Homo sapiens: one gene and its partner. The protein of the gene in region 2 interacts with the protein of the main gene of each other region in a pairwise test. Each region holds a gene or a part of one and is shown on either strand. Other genes may lie near its edges. The genes, in order: SURF1 and COA3.

Region 1 (10,909 bases), on a different chromosome or scaffold from region 2:
AACTATGGCAAGAGCTGTCTCCAATCCCTCCTCCTAACCAAGGCAGCCGTGAGGAGCAGCCCTGGCACCCCAGCCTGCTGGAGATGAGTACTTGGGCCCCATCCCAGCCCTAAAACAGGAACCCATGGGTTAACAAGAGCCCCAGGTATTTTCATTTTTACGTGAATCCTCCAGTTCCCTAGTTAATCACACAGGTGCTCCTGTACCTGTCATTTGCTTTGCCTGGAATGTTCTTCCCATCTCTTAACTCCCAAATAGCCCTCTAGGGAGCCACCCCTGCCTCCACTCCCTCAAGGTAGGGCTGGGGTCCTTTCTCTTGAAGTCCTCTTGCTGGCCCCTCATAGCTTGCCATCATCTAATGTGTGGGCAACTAGACAGTTCTCCAGAGGCAGGGCCCCTGTTTCACGAATCCCTCCTTTCCCTTCAGAGGTCAACATACAGAAATTATCCAGTCATAAATGAGCTGGCTGAGAAGATTAAGTCAATGTCACAATTAGGGACTTAAACTATGCAAGGAATTGAATCTCCTGGGTATCTTGGGTTCCCCAGGGTCCTACCAAGGTTGGGGATTGTGAAGGAAATAGTGATGTAAATTAGTATACCCTGACTGCCTCTGCCAGGACAGCCAGCTCCCACATGTCCTACTCACCCCAGGTCGGTGCAGTGGAAGGGAGTGACCACATAGGCCCCACTCTGAGTTGAGGAGGAGATGAGGCCGCCCTCCCGGGCCTCCCGGACAGGGTCCACCATGGTCCGGGGCATCATATACAGCTCCTTGGAATGGTCAAAGCACCCCCTGACCTTCACTGGCCTATACTCCAGATTTTTCAGTTCCATTGGGCTGCATGGAGATAAGAACAGTGGCCGAGCAAGGTTTGGCTGGAAAACGAATCCCCTGAGGGTGGCAGACTACACAGCCCACCAGGGCCAGACAAGTGAAGGAGAAAGGCAAAGGGCGTGCTCTTCAAAGGGGAACTTTGATGCCATGTGGGAATGTGGATCTGCACTGCCAGAGTCCAACTTTACAAGAGAGGCTAAAAATCTGGACTCCTCAATGAATATTTTATGTGAAATTTTAAAAAATATGTGGGCCAAAACCCCATCTGCAAGCCAAATCTGGCATACTGTTTGCTACCCTGAATGGAAAATGTGGCTGAATATACCTATCTCTGTAGGGCATATTCTAGGGAGAGAGCAGACAAATCATTCAGGGCACTTTTTCAAACGACCACCCTCACGGTGAGACCTACATTATCTGTCCTCAGCCACAGGGCCTTGGGCCCTGTGGAGGATAAGTTTACTATACCTGAAAAAAGGGTGACACCCAGGACTCAAAATAAGACTTTCCTCCATATGTCAGGAGGCGGTCTCAGGTAGCTTCACAAGGGCAGTCAGGTGTCAACAGCAAGCCCAACAGATGACTGATAATGAGAGCTCCCACCTGAGGTCAAGGCAGTGACTAAAAGTCCCACCAAAAGGGGCAAGCTGGCCAGCAGAAGCCAGGGCTCTGCTGTTGAACTCAAGTAAAACAGGCCCTAGGGGGGCAGCCATGCACTCACTCGGCTGGCAGAGGGACAGGCTCAGCCAGAACTCTGGACTCCAACTCTGCAATCAGGTTCAGCTTCCACTTCCGACGCTGGACCTACAGTGACAGAGCATAAGGCCAAGCAGATGGCAGCAAGGTCAAGGGCCCAGAGTTACGCACACCAGATGCCGGTCTTTACCTGCCATGTCCCCAAGCCAAAGGCAGTCACAGGGATGAGGAGCAGGACCCACTGAAGAAAGGAGTCATCTTCCGCTTTTGTGGCAGATGCTTCTGCTGCAGAACTGCCACATCTGCTTGGCCTCCAGGCCACCCCTGGAGAGTTTCACAACACTGACATGGAGCCAGAAGCCCTCGAACACAGACCTGGAGCAGCCCGTTCCAAGACAGACTCCAGTACTGCCAATCAAAACCTGCTGCCTAGAGCCAACTAGCAGCACCTGTATCCAGCCCAGCTCCTAACCCGGTGCCCAGAACAAGGCACACACAGTACGTCTGCCAAGTGAGTAAGTGGGATCTAGGGCTCAGTGCCGGTTTGACCACCAACCACGACCCTGAGTAACTCATGCCTTTTTACTCAAGAATCTAGATGTATTCCACTGCACTAAGATGCACCATTCATCCATTCAAAATGCATTTAATAAGCAGCTACAGTTGGCCGGGCACGGTGGCTCACGCCTGTAATCCCAGCACTTTGGGAGGCCAAGGCGGGCGGATCACGAGATCAGGAGTTCGAGACCAGCCTGACCAACATGCAGAAACCCCATCTCTACAAAAAAATGCAAAAATTAGCTGAGCACGATGGTGCTTCTGTAATCCCAGCTACTCGGGAGGCTGAGGCAGGAGAATCGCTTGAACCTGGGAGGAGGTGGTTGCTGTAAGCCGAGATTGCGCCACTGCACTCCAGCCTGGGCAACAAGAGCGAAACTGTCTCAAAAAATAAAAAATAAGCAGCTACAGTTACTAAGTAGCTTAGTCAGGCACTAGTGGTTGTTGTGTTATGTAGAAAAATATATCAATTCAGTAATGGCTCACAGAGCTCTCTTAACAGCTTTCCATTTTTACAACTCATCGTAAATGTAAAGAGGGAAGAATGTACACAGAAAGTGCCTTTAAGCTCTCAGAGGATGAGTTCCATCCGCTGAAAAGCACCAGGGGCCTTGCGGATACTATTTTTTTTTTTTTTTTTATAAAAAGGCAGGCCTGGGGCAGGCTTGCACAGCACTCTACACACGGCAAAACAGCCCTGTGCTGCACACTGAGAGGAACACGTAAGCCGCGGTGGTTAGATACGCTTTACTTTCAGAGCCCTGGGCTTTCAGCCTGGGCTGGCCACCCATTAGCTGGATGGGACGTTCGGAAGTAACTCTCGAGCCTTCTCTGTAACAGGGGAACGACCAAGGAGCTACCTCTCGCGTTGTGAGGACAAAGCGCTCGCTACATGCCCGGCACACGACCACAATTCCACTGAAAGCATTTTAATACGGAACTTGTCACTCCCAGGGAGCCTCCGCTCAGCCGGCAGTTGGTTCATTTCAATCCCCACGACAACCCTTCAAAGTGCAGGGCAGACAGCAGGTGGCTCTGCCCAGGCGCCTGGATCACAGCCCGGCCTGCAGCCCTCACCTGGGCGCGGGGAGACCCTGAGGACGCTCCTCCAGGCGGCGCTGGCCGGGGCCTGCGGACACGGACGGGCGGGCTGAGCTCCGGGACCCCTCCCCGCGCCCCGCACCCCGCACCCCGCACCCGGCGCTCACCCGTCCCAGCCCCGCCGCCCGCAGCCCCAGCTGCAACGCAGCCACCGCCGCCATCGCACCCGGCCCCGCGGGCGCTTCCGGGACGCAGGAAGCATCTGCATCCGGGGCGCCGCTGAGTCCCGCCCAGAGCCCCGCCCCCGGCTCCAGGTTCTGCGAGCGGCTTCCGCCGGGCTGCTCCGCGGGCGCGTCGGCCATGAGCGAGTTGCCGGGCGACGTGCGGGCGTTTCTGCGGGAGCACCCGAGCCTGCGGCTCCAGACGGACGCCCGCAAGGTTCGCAGCGCGGGAGGGGAACGGAGTGGCGGAGAAGGGCGCAGTTGGGATGAGGGGCTGAGGGGAGGGCAGGGGAGAGGAGAGGGCAGGGGAGAGGGGAGAGGGGAGAGCAGGAGAGAGGGGAGGGCAGGGGAGAGGGCGCGGCGGGATCAGGGGAGGAGAGGGAAGGGGGCGCGGCAGGAGGGGGCACCAGGGAGCGGAGCCCTGGCCCTCCTGACGTCCTGCCCGCCCACGCGTCCGCAGGTGAGGTGCATCCTGACAGGTCACGAGCTGCCCTGCCGCCTGCCGGAGCTCCAGGTCTACACCCGCGGCAAAAAGTACCAGCGGCTGGTCCGCGCCTCCCCGGCCTTCGACTATGCAGAGTTCGAGCCGCACATCGTGCCCAGCACCAAGAACCCGTAGGTGGTCCGCGGCGGCGCGGGGAGGCCCAGGGCAATTAGGACAGCCCCTCCGCTGGACTCCGCCAGTGCTGCAGCCCCTACTCTTTCAGAGTTGGGAGCCCTGGGACCCAGGTGGGCGCCCGGGTGCTGGAATCACCTGCGGTCCCAGCGGCGAGGCCTCTTGGTGAGCTCGTTTGCTCACCTGAGGTTTGTCCTGTGGGGTGTGGCTGCTTCCCAGATGAGTAGAGGCTTGTGATTTGTCACCTGAGGTTGTGAACAGCGTTGGGTTCTTCCCTTAACCCCAGAAGGGGTCTTTGATTTAGCTGGGAGCTAGGCTTTGTAATAATCGTCAAAACAGAGATAGGATGTTTCCATTCATTGAGCCCTTGCTCCAGGTGGAGCCATCCTCTTGCATGAACTCATCCTGGAGCAGTCAGTGAGGCTGCCATGCGTGCTTTTCCGGTAAACATTAAGAGGCTGCAGTCGGCCTGGGTCAGACGGTTCCCCACCCAGCTTCAGAGTGGAATTGCTCCGGGAGCCTTTAAAAGCCCGATGTCCAAGCCGCATGGTAGACTGTCCAGGGATGAGTCCAAGACACAGCCACCAGTCTGAATCCTTGCTGTGAACTGTCCCTACAAATTTGGTCTCTCTGCTCTGTAGGCACCAGTTGTTCTGCAAACTCACCCTGCGGCACATCAACAAGTGCCCAGAACACGTGCTGAGGCACACCCAGGGCCGGCGGTACCAGCGAGCTCTGTGTAAATGTAAGTCCCAGTGGACCCCCATCAGTGCATCGCCATCTGAGTGCATGCCCGCCTTGCCCCAGATGGAGCGTGCTTGAAGGCAGGTCGTCCTTCAGCGATCCGTGTTGATGCATCAGGCCTGTTTTTTGGCACAGTGAAGAGAGGGATGATGGCCCCTGACCCCACAGCTTTTAGTGCAGGCAGGCACAGAGCCAGAAGCAGGCTCGGGAGTGAGTGAGTGTGCGTGGCAATGCGAGGTGTGAAAGAAACTGGGCGAGGGATGTGGGGTGGGCTTGCGGAGACAGGAGGGCTGGGGAGACTCGCTGAGGGATTCGCTCGAGGCTGAGGCTGGAGGGATGTGGTGGCAGTGGGGTCGGGGGAACAGCACCCCAGGGAGAAGCCAGGGTCCATGGAAGTCTGAGGCAAAAATGTGTTGGCTGAGGTAGGCTCCAAAGGACTGGCTGGGCTAGTGTGCACAGCCCGGATGACCCAGAGACCAGGCCAGGAGCACTGCAGTGGGTGTGTGGAGAGGGTTGGGTGGGGGCTGCATGGACAGTGTGCATGGTTGAGAAGGGAGGACTCCTTGACTGCGGTCATCCAGGAAAAGACGGTGGGTTTTGGGGGGAGAATTCAGAGTCCCTTTGAAGGTTTTAAGCTTGAGCTGTATTAGGAAAGGTGTGTATTAGGGAAGTATCGGGCTTTTGAAACAGGGACACCCGTGCTGGATGAAGGAGATGGTTGCACCGTGGATCTGGGTGAGCACCCGGCGAGAGTTTAGAGAAGGGAGAGAGGCCTGGTCCTGAGCCCCAGGAAGAGGCTGGAAGTCCTCCCGTGGTACTGAAGGGAAGATGAGGACAGAAAAATGATAGATTTGATAACACAGAGGCCCCTGGCAACCTTGGTGAGGCACCTGAAGCTTGGCAGGGACACCTGGCTAGAGTGGAGCGTAGGCTGCAGCCCATGAGGGCAGTGTCCGGCCTTAGGCAGGTGCTGGGTCACCAGAAAGCCTTTCTGGAGTCCAGCTAAGGAGGGAAATGGACAGAGGCTGGAGCGGACAGATTCAGGTTGGTTTGCGGATGGGAAGATGCGTCTACGGGCTTCTGATGAGTGCGGAGAGGCAGTCCAGCCCTCCCGAAGCATGAGTGTGGATTGAGAAGGCAGGACCAGGGTTTCTCAAGTAGAAGGCGGGCACCTTGCAGAGGCCTTGCAGGCACAAGGGCTGCCAGCCTGAGGCTTGGACTTTTTCCAGCCAGTGTGTTAGCTGCTCAGGGGTGGGCAGGAAGGCTCTAAGTGCAGGGGGCCACGGGGTTCCCATGAAGAATGGTTATGATGGTGGACTGTGGAGCTGAGATGGGACTGGGGCGCCGAGGTCACTGCAAGGCAGTGGTCCAGGGAAGTCCAAACGTGGCTGTAAGGGGGCTCTGCCTTCACGTTCTGGTGGTGACAAGGCTGCTGCATGGCCATGGGGGTGGGTGGCAGAGACAAGGAGGGAAACAGCCCTGGAGATGGGCCGCCACATCAATGGCCAGGGCCCAGCAGGGCTCATGCAGCCCATGAGGGATGATGATGGTAGCTGCGCTGGGCTGGAGGGCAAGCCCCAGCAGACCCTCCAATATACAAGGGGACAACGGTGGTGACTCCAGTGAGGTCTTTCCATGGAAGCCTTGTCCCAACTCCCTTCTCACCCACTAAGGGGCAGCAAAGGCCAGGCAGCCAACCTCCACTGAGCCCCGCCCTCCGGGACGGGGTCTCCCATGTGCTGAGGGAGGACTTCAGGCTGCTGGGGAGAGGGTGGCATCACTGCCAGCCCGAGTTGCCTTTGAGAGGCCATGCCAAGCTCACTGGGGCACAGTTGGCCTTGGGCCTGGTCAGTGCCCTCCTAGCCGTGGCTTCCTAGGCCTGGCTAGATCGGGGATGAGTGGTAAAGGCCCCGTAGACCTCTACCATCTTCTTGCCTCCTGGCTGCAGCCCTGGCCCACCACCCTCCCTGCACACCTGGTAGGAACAGAGCTGAGGCACCCAGCAGCTGCTCTGGTTTTTGTCCAGGGCGGTGGGGCTGTGGGGCCCTGGCCGAGTGCAGTCCTCATAAGTTAGCTGTGGCCCAGAGGACCGTGGGGGGTGTGGAGGTACCCAGCACGTGCTGGCTTATCTCCCAGATGAAGAATGTCAGAAGCAAGGGGTGGAGTACGTGCCTGCCTGCCTGGTGCACCGGAGGAGGAGGAGGGAGGACCAGATGGACGGTGACGGGCCTCGCCCGCGGGAAGCCTTCTGGGAGCCCACATCCAGTGATGAGGGGGGAGCTGCAAGTGATGACAGCATGACAGACCTGTACCCACGTAAGCAGAACAGGCCCTGCTTCTCCCTGACCCTCTACTGTCAGCAGGGAGCAGACTGTGGTGCTGCCTCCCCTGCAAAGGTGGCAGCGAACTCAGCCTAAAATAACTGTCAGCCAATCCCTGTGTTCCTCCCAGCTGAGCTATTCACCAGAAAGGACCTTGGAAGCACGGAGGATGGGGATGGCACTGATGACTTTTTGACAGACAAAGAGGATGAGAAGGCAAAGCCCCCAAGAGAGAAGGCCACTGATGAGGGCAGGAGAGAGACGACCGTGTACCGAGGGCTGGTCCAGAAGCGCGGGAAGGTGAGCTGTCACCTCCTCTGTTAGTGTGGCAGTGGCTTCCCCTAGTGATGGTTTTCCATTTGTTTAAAAAAAGAAAACTGAACCTTTTTCACAAGTGAAATCCCAAGCCAACAACACACAAGAACCATAGAAGCCGAGGCCGCTGGCTGGCGGAAGGCCGTGAGTGCCTACCATTGCTTCCCAGCCAGCCCCTTGTGGAAGCCAGGCTCTGTGGACCACGGTCAAGACCACTGGTTTGTGAGGACACCCTCCTACCTCAGACTATGAGCTGTGGCGTGTTTGTCCTTACCCCTGGGCACAGGGACCTGATTACTAGCCACCACCTTTGCCTTTGCCATCAGGGCAGGAGTGGAGACTTCCCCGCCTTTGGTAGATAAGCAGGACCAAGGCCAAAAGAGGACAAGGTCCTAATGAGTGTGTGGCATTGCACTGTACTCCTCTGAGGCCCTGCTGAGCGGGGTCTAATCCTGCAGCTGTTAAGGAAACGGGGGTGGAGAAAGCCTCTGTGGGTATTTGACCGACACCTCTGAGGCTGTGTGGGTGGGGAGAGCCCTGCACTCCAGGGCCCCTTCTCCATGGGATCAGAAAGGCTCAGTAATCAGAATTTTGTTTATCCCACAGAAGCAGTTGGGCTCGTTGAAAAAGAAGTTCAAGAGTCATCACCGCAAACCCAAGAGCTTCAGCTCCTGTAAACAGCCAGGTTAATAAAAGCACATGCCGTGAAGTTTCGAGAAAGCCTTCAGATATTTCCCCCGCTCCTGATCAAACCGTGTGTCCTCTGAATGATCGGCTGTCCCCAGTGTCTTCTCTACCCACTTATCCTTGTCTCATGACATCTGCTGCCCTCTAAGGCAGGGCTGAGGGAGTCTGTCCCCCACACCCAGGAAGCAGCAGGGACTCTGAGGGACTAATTCTCTCTGGACATGGCTTCTGAGTGGTCTTCAGAGAAGCCTAGAGAAGTAACCTCGCTCACTGGCATCCTGAGGGGAGCCCCATTCAGGCTGGGCAACGCTATAGGATCACACTGCATACAACAAACGCCATTATTTATTTTGATGTGTTTCCAAAAATCAAAACGTTTTCAAACACAACTAAGATATAAAATACAGCATAAAATGAGATTTAGATCTGTTTCCCACATAAAGCAAAAAAATCTTAGAAATTGTTTTGCCAGAATCAATTGGTAGATCCCACTTATCCTCCCCTCCCTGCAAAGGCATCTTCCCGAATCAGGCCCTAGCCCACCCAGGGCCAGGAGAAACAGGAACACCCACTAGGACGGAGGCGCTGCTGGTGCAGAACTGGTGCTGACTGCTCACGTGGCCTCCTTTGGTCCACCCTACTTTCCACCAATCAGCCAACCAACCTTGACCACAGAGAAACCGTGACTTGGCCAAGGTCATTTGATGGGGGCTGTCATACGGCACTAACAGGGAGCGAGGTGTGGACCAAGAGACAGCCCTGGTGAGGTTGAAACACTGAGACAAGCCAGTCTTCATGCAGTGAGCACTTGAATGATCACAGGAGAAGAGAACCCATGTCCTGAAGCCATTGCTCGATCTTACCAATATTCGGGGGTAAGGAAGTAGGCTACCAGGGGAATATTTGCAAACGCGTTGGGACTAGTTCGGCTGTGTTAAAAAGGTAGGTGACTTCCAAAAGCACTTATGAGCAGAAACCTGCCTCACCCCTGCCCTGCAGAGCCAATGGATGAGAGGCCAAGAGGGAGGCAGGCTCGGGGCTGGGCCGCAGCAGCCCTGGAGACAGGCTGAGCCAGCCTGTCCCCAGATAGGTCTAGGGGCCAGAGAGGTGTTCGACTACCCTTGTGGCATTTACTATGGTGCAGACGACAGGGAGCAACAAGCAGTTAAGCTCCCCCAAAAAGAGAAACACAGTATAAGGCAGTGTTAGAAAACTTTAAATACAGGATTAAGATCAAATCGGTAAGGCATCACAAATTGTAAAAAGGAATTTTGGCTGCATTCGGCATAGCAAACGGACAATCTGAGTGAGCGACAGCCTCAGGAAAGTGGTGTGTCGGGGCTGTCCACAGGGCGAGTGCAGCTGGGAAAGGGCGGTGCTGCTCAGCCAGGGCGGCCTGCGCTTTCGAGACCTTGCTCAGAAAAGGCCCCATGTGAGGTAACTGGGTTGAGTCCGTGGGTCTCCAGTGCTGGGAGCTCCTGCCACACCCCCTGCCCACAGCGGCTGCGGCTCTGCAAGCTGGTCTGAGCAGCTGGCCAGGCTGGCTTGCAGGGTGCTGCTGCTGGGGCTACCCCTGTGTGGTCTCACTAGCCCTTCCCACTGCCAGCTTGGAGGCCAGCAGCACCCAGACCAGCAGCTTCCCCAAGGACTTCTTGCCCCTCCACCTTGCCTCAAGCTACTAAAACTCCCAGGGTGTTACCCAATAAAACACTTGGCACCAATCCAAGCTGATTTTCTGACCGATGACTTTTATCATAAACAGCAGCTTCTACCACCCCTTTAATACTGCATCATTCTTTGGGTGTCCCTAAATGTTTTCACTATTCCTATAAAATACAATGCGGGGCAGAAACAACATCAAAGCCACTGGTGTGATTTTAAACCAGGGAGATTAACTGTTTTGAGGTTTGGCTGAACCACCCAAAATAATTTAGTAGTTTCCGCTAAAAATGTAAACTTACAAATAAGAGGGAGACTGCTTTGAATGATAATACCAATGCGTCTGCTCACAGTACAGCTTGAAGGCCCCCTCCTGTACCCCCACAAAAAAACTCAAAAATAGGACTGAGATGCCACAGCCAAGCGGGCTGTTCACTCCAAAGCCTCGGCGTGGGGGAGGCTTCCAGCTGCCAGGCTGGCCTGCACTGAAGGGTCAGACGCCAGACTGTGGCTCCAGAGCAGACTGAGCCATCGATTCTCAGGTGTCTCTGCAAATAAAGTTCTCAAAACATCTGTGCCTTTACCAAGGGAGGGGAAGGGAAGAGGATACATAAAAGCTGGCAGTTTTGTTGAATCCACCCCGAACCAGTCCTTGACGGCCACGGGTCTTAGCCAGGCAGGTAGGGATCTGTGACTGTTACCACTCCTTCTTCTTCTCATCCATGGAGACACCCCCAGGGCCCAGGGCCACCACCAGGAGCAAGCCCCCAATCACCGACATGGTCTGGAAGAAGTCGTATTTCAGGAAGTCATGCATGGGCTTGTAGACTGGAATGGTCCAGAAGGCGTTGAAATATACGTTGATGGCAAAGAGCCACACAACAAGAGTCAAAGCAGCCAGCTTGGTTTTAAAACCAATGGCCACTAAAATCATCAGAGCTGTGCCCACGATGTTCTGGACAATCTGCATAGGTTGAAACGTAAGAAATTCAAAATAAATGTGAGGAAAAGAGATGCTTTATAAACAAAAGTTCCAGCTGCTGCACGTCATGAAGTCTCTATCCATCAGGCTGATGTAGCTACTGCTGAGACGGCTGCTGGTGCAAGTAGGGAGATAAAAGCCAAAGGGAGGCAGGAGGCAATAAAGCACCAGCTTTGAAATGTGGAAGGTTTGGGGAAGACTGAAGTTCCCAACTAGTAACAGGCTGTGATT
Region 2 (10,397 bases):
CCCCACCTCCCCTTTCCTCACTTAGTGCTCTCCTTCCCCCATCCTGCTCCCAGGCATCATGCGAAGGAACTCTCTGAGTGGCAGCAGCACCGGCTCCCAGGAGCAGCGGGCAAGCAAGGGGGTGACATTCGCCGGGGATGTTGGCAGGATGGTGAGGGCGGGCCCAAGGGAGGGAGAGCCCAGGGAATGGTACCTGGCTGCAGCTTCGCCTTCCTCCCACCTTGGAGGTTTCTTCATCACTTTTTCTTTTCCCTCCAGTGAATTCAGAACAGAAGCCATGTATCTCCCCCACACCAGGGCCCACCATGGAGCTTGTGTTCTCAGAATCTGATGCTTTCTGATCAACAAAACTGAGCAAGGAAGATCCCAACACTGAAGGGGTAGAAGGCCAGGGGGGCATGGAGAGTGCAGCTCCATTATAGTGAAGAGCCAAACATATGTGAACTGTTTGCTGTGTGGAGGTGTTAGTTCTGCTGCCTACCATCTTCATCTCTAGCACCTCCCCTGCCAAGAGTCAACCACTAAGCAATCCCACCCAAGCCTGGATGCTTCTAGAGGGGCCCACTCCCAGCTGGGAGAGTGTAGGGGATATGCTCACACCACATTAGCAGCAACCAATAAAAATGCTGGAAACAAGAACGCCGTGAATCCATATGCCATGCCTTAGGAATTGGGGGAGCAAAGACTTGTGGGGTGAGGCAGGGGAGGATTTAAAAGGGACTTTCTTTTCACAATGGGAGGCAGGGGTGGAAGCTGCCCAGCCCTCTGGCTTCCTGCCATCAGTTAATGAGGAAACTGCAAGGTCAGTGATCCACTTGACTAAGTTAGGATCCCCTCCAGACCCCACCCTAGACCTGTATAGGCAGGTACCAGGGAAAGTTAAAAGAATGAAGACTGCTTGTCTTTCACCCTTCATCCACCTCTCTCTCCCTCCCTCTCTCTGGGGATGGGAAAAGCAGTAGAGTTACAGTATGTTCTTGTGGGTAGAGGACAGAAGAGTGACCTTCCTTCCCCTAAGACGTGGGTTCAGTCTCAAACTGCCCAGTGATCTCTCCCTTAAATCAGGTGGAAAGATCTCATGGAAAAAGTAATTCTAGTTAAACATTTACAGCTCCCTGGGGCAATGCCACCACTGCAGCTACTGCTTGTGAAGCTTTCCAGCATGAAGTGCCATATGCTGCCTCTCAGCCTCCATACTCACTTGACTCCAGGAGAATGACTCAGTTTATTATTCTCAATTTGACCCTATGTATCCCACTGTAGGCTCAAACACTGCACAGAGCTGCCACGTCTAACCTCGTAACAACTGCGTCCCTGGAAGGTGAAGGGGGTAAACCACAAAGTCAGAAACTTTGGGAAAAGCCACGGTCGCATGCACACCTCTCAAACAAGGAAACAAACTACAAGAAAGGGCTCAGTCATTGTACACAGCAAGTGTGCAGTGGGCAAAGTTCTGTTCTTTTGACATTGGCCAAATGCGTAAGTCCCTGGTTTCTTGGGCTCAATCACGGTCCAAGGTTAGTAAGAAGGCCAACAATGTTGTGAGCAGGATTCAATTTCTACAGGGTCATGGGGCATCATCCACCATGTGAAGGGGCTCCAGCAGGTTGGACATGATCAATACCCATCCAGATTAGGACCCTGACGCCCTTGCCAGAGCTCGGGCTCGGGCAGCTTTGGCCTCGTCTTCTAGCTCATCTAGGAAACGCTCCTGGGAAATCGAGTAGAAGGTGTAACCATCTGGGGAGGTAGGTTCAGGAAACCACACAGAATATGCACATTCCCCTTTCCTAGATTTGCTCTACCACTCTTGTTACTCTCCCAAATCAGTGATTCCGGCTTCCCGCCGCTGCTGTTTCTAAACCCTGAACCCCAATTCCGTTATTATTAATAAATCAAATTAAAAGAGTACCTTAGGAATAACAAAGGAAAGTACTACCCATTTTACCCCAAAATTAAACGGGTGGTTCAGCCCTCTTGCACACTCTGTTCCCCTGCCCCTATATGCGGTCCCCTTGAGTCTACAACACGGACGGATACAAATAGCCAACACCAGGGCCCCGATGCCTAGGCCGGTCACGATGTTCCGGGTTCGCCGCCGTGGTAGGACCTTCTGCCACTGGGCAAGCTCCGCCTGCCGCATGGAATGCAGTTGCTCGGGTGTCAGCTTCTCCCGAGTCGGGTCGATACGCTGAGCGAACGGGGCCTCTCCACGCTTAGAATCCAGAGGGTCACCAGCTCCCGAAGACGCCATGTTGCCACTCCTCCCTTCGCGGTGCCGCCGCGCGGGCCTCGCTGGGAACAGTAGCCCTTGGCCGCTGCAGTGGACTCTGGGAGTTGTAGTCCGCGTGCCCTTTGCGGGGCAGAGCCGCGGTTCCCGGGCACAGGGGATGGACGCGGGAGGTGAGAAGCGGACGTGCTTTCTGATTGGCTGAGGAGTCCGTGGCCGTTGGGGCGGGAAAAAGCTGTGGAGGGTTCGAGGCTGTGGTGGTAATTGGGTTTTCCTCAGACTTGAGGCGACGACACACTCATTGGAAGGGGACGAGGAATCCAGGGTGTGGCAGAAGACTGGAGAGGAGCTAAGGGGGTCGGTATGTGGATCCAGTGAACCCGTCCAGGTGCCCCAAGAGGCTCGTGAATATGGACGGACCCATGAGGCCACGATCGGCCTCCCTCGTTGACTTTCAGTTTGGAGTTGTCGCCACAGAGACGATTGAAGACGCCCTGCTTCACTTGGCCCAGCAGAATGAGCAAGCAGTGAGGGAGGCTTCGGGGCGGCTGGGCCGCTTCAGGGAGCCCCAGATCGTGGGTGCGGCTGCAGGGCCGGGGTGCTGGGTTCTTGGGAGACTGGGGCTTGTGTCTTTCAGGCACCGACCTTGAGATTCCGTTGATTTTATTCATTCAGAGAATGTTTGCTAACACCTCTCTGTGGGGTGCTGGGGATATAGTGATGGATAAGTCACAACAGTGCCCTCCCCTTGATTTCTTCGACATGTATGGAATACTTGAGTGGCACCGCTTGGCTAGAAAGATGAAATAGAGGGCCAGGCATGGTGGCTTACACCTGTAATCCCAGCACTTTGGGAGGCTGAGGTGGGAGGTTCACCTGAGGTCAGGAGTTCGAGACCAGCCTGACCAACATGGTGAAATCCTGTCTCTACTAAAAGTACAAAAATTAGCCAGGACTGGTGGCGCGCACCTCTAATCCCAGCTACTCGGGAGGTTGAGACAGGAGAACTGTTTGAACCCAGGAGGCGGAAGTTGCAGTGAGCCGAAATCGTGCCATTGCACTTCAGCCTAGACGACAAGAATGAAACTCCGTCTCAAAAAAAAAAAAAAAAAAAAAAAAAAAAAAAGGCTGGGCGCGGTGGCTCACGCCTGTAATCCCAGCATTTTGGGAGGCTGAGGCGGGCAGATCACGAGGTCAGGAGATCGAGACCATCCTGGCTAACATGGTGAAACCCCGTCTCTACTAAAAATACAAAAAAAAGCCGGGTGTGGTGGCGGGCGCCTGTAGTCCCAGCTACTCCGGAGGCTGAGGGAGGAGAATGGCATGAACCCGGGAGGCGGAGCTTGCAGTGAGCTGAGATGGCGCCACTACACTCCAGCCTGAGTGACGGGTGACAGAGCGAGACTCTGTCTAAAAAAAAAAAAAAAAAAAAAGAGAAAAGAAAGATGAAATAGAGATAGAGGTCTTGCCTTCAAACCATGTGCAATTTGGGGGAGATATTAGAACAAATATGCAATGACTAGGTACTATGGTTAGATAAGAGACGTCAGAGAGAAATAAAACAAGCGTTTATGGGGGTTGAGAGGAGCGATGGGGTAATAGGAAGAATTCAGGGGATGGCCCAGGCATCGGGACATTTCAGGCAGACCTTGAAGGAAGGAGGACATTGGGTTGGTGAAGGGGGAGGAAGGAGACAGTGTTTCTACCAAAAAGAGGTAGCATGAGTAAAGCTATGGAAATGGGGTGCTTAGGGTGCATGTGGGTACAGTGTAGTCCATGTTGGCCAGTGCATGTGGAAGAATAGTTGAAATTAATACTGGAAAGGTAGTTTGGAGACATTCCATGTGGAAGTTTGAATGCCAAGGGGAAGAGTTTATCCTTGGTTTGGTAGGAAACCAAGAAGACATTGAAGGTTTTTAAATAAGGGAGTGAAGGTTTTAAAATAAGGGATACGATGGTAACCCTGCCTTAGTAAACATTATTTTGGCAGTGATGTAAAGGAGGTAAAGGATGGATTAAACCAGAGGGAGATGGGATGTAGGCAGACAGGTAGAGTCAATGTCAGTAGGCTAGGTGATAGGGCAGAGGGAATAACAAGGGAGGGTGGATTAAAAACATTCTAGAGGCAAAGTCTAGGGTTCTGCTGTGGATAAATTTAGGAAGTGAAGGAGGAAAACGTGACTATGCTAAACGGTTGAGCCTGGAAGACTGGAAGTATAGTGGTCATTAAAAGAAACACACAGACACGGCCGGGCACGGTGGCTCACGCCTGTATTCCCAACACTTTGAGAGGCTGAGGCGGGTGGATCACGAGGTCAGGGGTTCGAGACCAGCCTGGCCAACATAGTGAAACCCTGTCTCTATTAAAAACACAAAAATTAGCTGGGCATGGTGGCAGGCACCTGTAGTCCCAGCTACTCGGGAGGCCGAGGCAGGGGAATGGCTTGAACCTGGGAGGCGGAGGTTGCAGTGAGCCAAGATTGTGCCACTGCGCTCCAGCCTAGGCCACAGAGCAAGACTCTGTCTCCCAAAAAAAAAAAAAACAACAACAAAAAAAAACAACACAAAAAACACAGACACACTACATAAATAAAGCAGGAGGAAAAGTGACTTTTGTTTGGGAAAGATAATAATGGCTTTGGAGCCTGGCCAACATGGTGAAACCCCATCTCTACTAAAAATACAAAAATTAGCCAGGCATGGTGGCAGGTACCTGTAATCCCAGCTACTTGGGAGGCTGAGGCAGGAGAATGGCTGGAACCCGGGAGGCAGAGGTTGCAGTGAGCCAAGATCACGCCATTGCATTCCAGCCTGGGTAACAGAGTGAGACCTTGTCTCAAAAAAAAAAAAAAAATATATATATATATATATATATATATATATATATATAATATATGTGTGTGTGTGTGTGTGTGTGTGTGTGTGTATAATAGCTTTAGTTTTGGATCTGCTGAGTTTAAGGTGTTTGCAGAACATCTAAAAGAAGTGTTCTTGTAGACTATTCAAAGAGTAGGTTAGAAGAGAGGTCAGAAATGGAGATCAAGGTTTTCAAGTTATCTTCACAATGATATTGTTGAAACTGTGGCAGAGGATAAGCTCCTAGAAGGAGAAAAGAAAAGCAGGTCAAGGACAGTTCCTTGGGAAAACACTTTGTGTTCAGGGAATTGGAGTAAGAAGACTTGTGAAGGAAATAAAAGGAGGAGATAGGAACAGAACCAAGGGACTTTTGGCAGCCAAGAGGAGACTTTGAAAAGGATAATGGTCAGAAGTTTCAGATGCTTTAGGGATATCAACAGAACTAAAGATTGCAAAAAGCCATGATATTTAACAATTTGGACATATTTACTGTCCTCTGAGAATCATTTCAGCAAGTTAGGAAAGGTAGAAGCCAACAGATAGAAAATTAGGAAGTGAACGATGAAGTGGAAGCAGTGGGTGTGTAAGCCAGGCTTTCAAGTAATTCAACAGCGAGGCTGAGATGGGAGGATTGCTTGAGCCCAGGAGTTTGAGACCAGCCTGGGCAACATAGGACAATCCCGTCTATTTATTATTTATTTATTTATTTATTTAAAAAAAAATTCAACAGTGATGGGAAAGAGAGAGGTTAAAAGGGGAGGGTCTTTTAGTTAATAGCAGATCTGAGTATGCTTGTTATCGAGGAGGTGGGGCCAATAGCAAGGGAAAGGTGTAACCCTCATCCATTCCACCTAATCCAAGCTCAGTTTTTTTGGCAAATTAAAATGGAAAACAGAAACAAATGCTCAGATAATTCAGAGCAAAACCAAACCAAAACTTAACAACTGCACACATACACAAAGAACAAAACTAAGAAATAAAGCCTAAAGTCCAGCAAATAAAATGACTAATAAGAGACACAATTATATGTTCTAGGGTATTATGCTGAATTGCTTAAACTAATTCTGTCCTGCATTGGACATTGCTAGCCAAACTGTAGCCTCTGTAACGATGAGGTTTTGTACATCTATCTATGTGTAATGTGTGTTGAGTAGATTGTTACTTGTGTAAGCTTGACTAAATTTTCTAAGAAAGTTAAGTTTTCTCTGAAGACATATGATTATTTGACTAAATGTGTAATTCTCTACGGATCAATGCTAAAAGGTCTTCAGTCTGTAGGAGCTTTCTTTGTTGAGAACTGACATTTACCCTTGTTTCCACCCTCTAATGATATTGCAAGATAAATATAATTCTATCTGGAGCTGTTCTTTCAAAGAGAAACAGAGGCAGGCTAAAATCTTGCCAAGGTATCTCACCCTTCCCACCTTCCCAATGACTCCCTCCCCCTAAATTGGGCTATGTTCTCCAATTTAGGGGATGTTTCTTCAAAACAAGCCACTTCACAGTAACACACTTGCTCCTGGGGAGAGGCTCAGCCACCACAGATTTACCCAGCAAACTGGTGGTGGAGAGATGGTGTCCAGCTGTAAGGTGACTTGTGTTTGTAAAGCAATGGGAGTTCTCCAGAGGGTGGTTACTAAACAAACAGTGTCATAAAGAATATCAAAGCTCCAGGAGGGATCTTTCTGTTCCTGCCAACATTCCACAGAAAACAGAATATAGGAGTTAGGGTTTTTATCCATCCAAGAATCTTCCTTGAAGCTGGGGGTTCCCAGCATGGTGTAGAGGTCACATAGACCAGCTGGTATGTTTGTGTGTAACTGGCCAAGCCTTTTATCAGCTGAAACCCACAGGAAGGCTCAAGGGTCACTGAGGGGGCTTGGTAAGCCCTTGTCTTTGGCACTCAGTCAGCCTCCTTTACATGTCTCTGATCTGCCTATTGGCAGCAAAAGAAACTAAGCTCAGCTTTGGTTGTTTTAGTCTCATCTTTCTCACCTCCTGACCCTCTTCCCTTGGCCCCATCACGGCTTTTACACAATGCCAAGAGTTCACAGAGTGGTTTTGGTTGCATCTTGTGAATTAGGCTCTTTTTTCCTGTTTTGGCAGAGTTTGTTTTTCTCCTGTCTGAACAATGGTGTCTGGAGAAATCTGTGAGCTACCAGGCTGTAGAAATCCTAGAAAGGTAAAGCCCTGGCATAATGCCTTTTGAACGGCACCTCTCAGAGTGGCTAATGTACCTACATCTTTAAGAAAGTATGAGTAGTTGCCCCTTACCCTGAGACCTGGTTTTACACCCTCTCTAACTTGCAAATATAAATTTCTTTGTTGTTATTGTTGTTTTGAGACAGGGTCTTGCTCTGTCACCCAGGCTGGAGTGCCTGGTGGGATCTTGGCTCACTGCAGCCTTGACCTCCTGGGCTCAAGTGATCCTCCCACCTCAGCTTCCTGAGTAGCTGGGACTACAAGCATGTGCCTCCACACTTCGCACTTGGCTATTTTTTTTTTTTTAGAGATGGGCTTTTGCCATGTTGCCCAGGGTGGTCTTGAACTCCTGGGCTCAAGTCATCTGCCTGCCTTGGCCTCCCAAAGTGCTGGGATTACAGGTGTGAGCCACCATGCTCAGCCTCAAATGTAAATTTCTTAACCAGCAAGTTAAACTCCCTTTAGTTTGTGTGAGTGAGGATTGTTTACTCTCCCTCCCTTCCCTACAGGTTTATGGTAAAACAGGCAGAGAACATCTGCAGGCAAGCCACAATCCAGCCAAGAGATAATAAGAGAGAGTCTCAGAATTGGAGGGCTCTGAAACAGCAGCTTGTCAACAAGTTTACTCTCCGTCTTGTGTCATGTGTTCAGCTGGCCAGCAAACTTTCCTTCCGAAACAAAGTAAGGAGCTGGGGTTGCTCATGGGCACCTGAGTGTTAGGAAGAAACCAGCTTTTATACAAAGGGGGGCTGTGATGAGCTTCAAGTCAGTGACAAGAAGAAAATAAATAAATTACAAAGTAAAAACAACGGCCGGGCGCGGTGGCTCATGCCTGTAATCCCAGCACTTTGGGAGGCCGAGGCAGGTGGATCACCTGAGATCAGGAGTTCAAGACCAGCCTTGCCAACATGGTAAAACCCTGTCTCTACTAAAAATACAAAAATTAGCCAGGTGTGGTGGCGCACACCTGTAATTCCAGCTCCTCAGGAGGCTGAGGCAGGAGAATTGCTTGAACCTGGGAGGCGGAGGTTGCAGTGAGCTGAGGTCGTGCCATTGTACTCCAGCCTGGGCGACAGAGCGACTCTGTCTCAAAAAAACTAACAACAAAAAAACAAGGTAGCTGTAAGAAACCTACTCCTAGGTTAGGTGATACAACTCATGGAAATTCCAGAGTGTAATTATGCTTCCTAAGCATACCTTCTACACACACACACGCACACACATGATCTTTCTCCCCCTCTCACTCACACAGAGGCAGTTATTAAATAGCCTGAAGTTCTGTTCCCAAAGTATAATTGGGACAGATGCCATCATTCATACTGGTCACCTTTCCTCCCCCCTTGGACTCAAGGGCAGTTTACATAAGGTGCCTGAATTGCCAGCATACCTATCAACAGTAGAAGCAAACTATTACATTTATAAGGGAAAAAAATGTTTCCACATCACTACCCAATGCCTATACAGTAAAATATCATTCATTCAACAAATACTTTCTGAGTTTATTCTATGGCCAGATGCTGCACCAGGTGCCATGGCTACAACAGTACAAATATTGTCTGTGCTCACAAGGAACCTATTATGTAATGGGAAAAGACACATACAAATAGTGTGGAAAAAAAAGCTCTGATTAATGTAAATACAGAGGGCTATAAATGTACCTCATCAGCCTTGGAGAGTCAAGGAAGTGTATTTAGAGAAAATGACTTCTTGAAATGGGGTGGGTGGGAGATGGGAGGATCCTAAGAGAAGAGGGAGAGGAATTAGGGAGGAAAGGAAGGGAGATCCAGGTATAGAAAACAGCCTGTGTAGTGGCTTGGAGAGGGACAGCATGGTGGGTTTGGGAACTGTAAGCAATTTGGAATGACAAGCAGAGTGTGAGGGGGAATTACCAAGAGACAAGACTGAAGATGAAGGAATAGGCTGGATTATGAAGGGCTTTGTGCACTCTGTCAAGACGTATGAACTTTATCCTAACATTCTTCTTTCCCTCTCTTTTCTTTGCTCAGATAATCAGCAACATTACAGTCTTGAATTTCCTCCAGGCTCTAGGCTATCTACACACTAAAGAAGAACTGCTGGAATCAGAGCTTGATGTTTTGAAGTCCTTGAACTTCCGAATTAATCTGCCCACTCCCCTGGCATATGTGGAGACGCTCCTAGAGGTTTTAGGTATCTTACTGTGTTAGGGAATATGGGTTGGAGACTTCCATAGAAGGCAATACAAAATGTGCATGGGGGGGCATGGCTCATGCCTGTAATCCCAGCACTTTGGGAGGCTGAGGTAGGTGGATCACTTGAGGCCAGGAGTTCAAGACCAGCCTGGGCAACATAGTGAGACCCCATCTCTACTAAAAATACAAAAATTAGCTGGGTGTGGTGGTGGGCACCTGTAATCCCAGCTACTTGGAAGGCTGAGGCACAAGAATTGCTTGAACCTGGAAGGTGTAGGTTGCAGTGAGCCGAGATCATGCCACTGCACTCCAGCCTGAGCAACAGAGCGGACTCCTTCTCAAAAAAAAAAAAAAATGTGCACAGGGGTTTGGGAACAGTGGGCAGAACCTGCCAATGAGGAACAGTAGGAAGCTTGATGGTGTCTCTGGATGACTGAAACAGGTGTTCCCTCCGGCACTTGTCAGGGAAAGCTCAGAGGTCTTAGCAACTGGCTTCTGTTTGGACTCACTAGGCACTCTTATTGCAGGATCAAAGAGGTGACTTTATAGAGAGGCATAAGATAAGAGAGGGACAACTACATGCTAATTGTATGTATACTACAGATGGAGGTTTCTCTACCTCTACCTTTGTCCTTTAAAACTGATCTCCAGCTAAACAGGTTTCTTGTAGTAGAACATAGCAACCAGGAAGCACATTAGCACCTCAACAGCTTTATGTCACAACTGTGGTTATGATCAGAGAAGACATGATCATAAATTCTCCCTATCATTCCCATACTCCATCTAGGATACAATGGCTGTTTGGTTCCAGCCATGAGGCTGCATGCAACCTGCCTGACACTGCTCGACCTGGTCTATCTTCTGCATGAACCCATATATGAGAGCCTGTTGAGGGCTTCAATTGAGAACTCCACTCCCAGTCAGCTGCAAGGGTAAGA

The links.
Region 1: the proteins of COA3 (region 2) and SURF1 interact in binary tests that used the Homo sapiens proteins (3 or more experiments, as listed by UniProt).

The regions. Positions count from the first base shown.
Region 1 is NC_000009.12:133,353,100-133,364,008, forward strand, and holds the start of SURF1 (surfeit locus protein 1), read right to left. Parts: upstream 3,389-10,909; 5' UTR 3,355-3,388; coding exon 3,301-3,354; intron 3,222-3,300; coding exon 3,170-3,221; intron 1,859-3,169; coding exon 1,725-1,858; intron 1,643-1,724; coding exon 1,560-1,642; intron 842-1,559; coding exon 650-841; intron 1-649. Other genes in the region: SURF2 (surfeit locus protein 2), read left to right, coding at 3,494-3,571, 3,815-3,969, 4,612-4,715, 6,851-7,030, 7,166-7,335, 7,957-8,040; SURF4 (surfeit locus protein 4), read right to left, coding at 10,394-10,660. UniProt on the Homo sapiens protein: Component of the MITRAC (mitochondrial translation regulation assembly intermediate of cytochrome c oxidase complex) complex, that regulates cytochrome c oxidase assembly.
Region 2 is NC_000017.11:42,796,428-42,806,824, forward strand, and holds COA3 (cytochrome c oxidase assembly factor 3 homolog, mitochondrial), read right to left. Parts: upstream 2,278-10,397; 5' UTR 2,255-2,277; coding exon 2,041-2,254; intron 1,741-2,040; coding exon 1,634-1,740; 3' UTR 1,198-1,633; downstream 1-1,197. Other genes in the region: serine/threonine-protein kinase WNK4, read left to right, coding at 54-331; CNTD1 (cyclin N-terminal domain-containing protein 1), read left to right, coding at 2,641-2,809, 7,193-7,268, 7,798-7,969, 9,295-9,457, 10,247-10,391. UniProt on the Homo sapiens protein: Core component of the MITRAC (mitochondrial translation regulation assembly intermediate of cytochrome c oxidase complex) complex, that regulates cytochrome c oxidase assembly.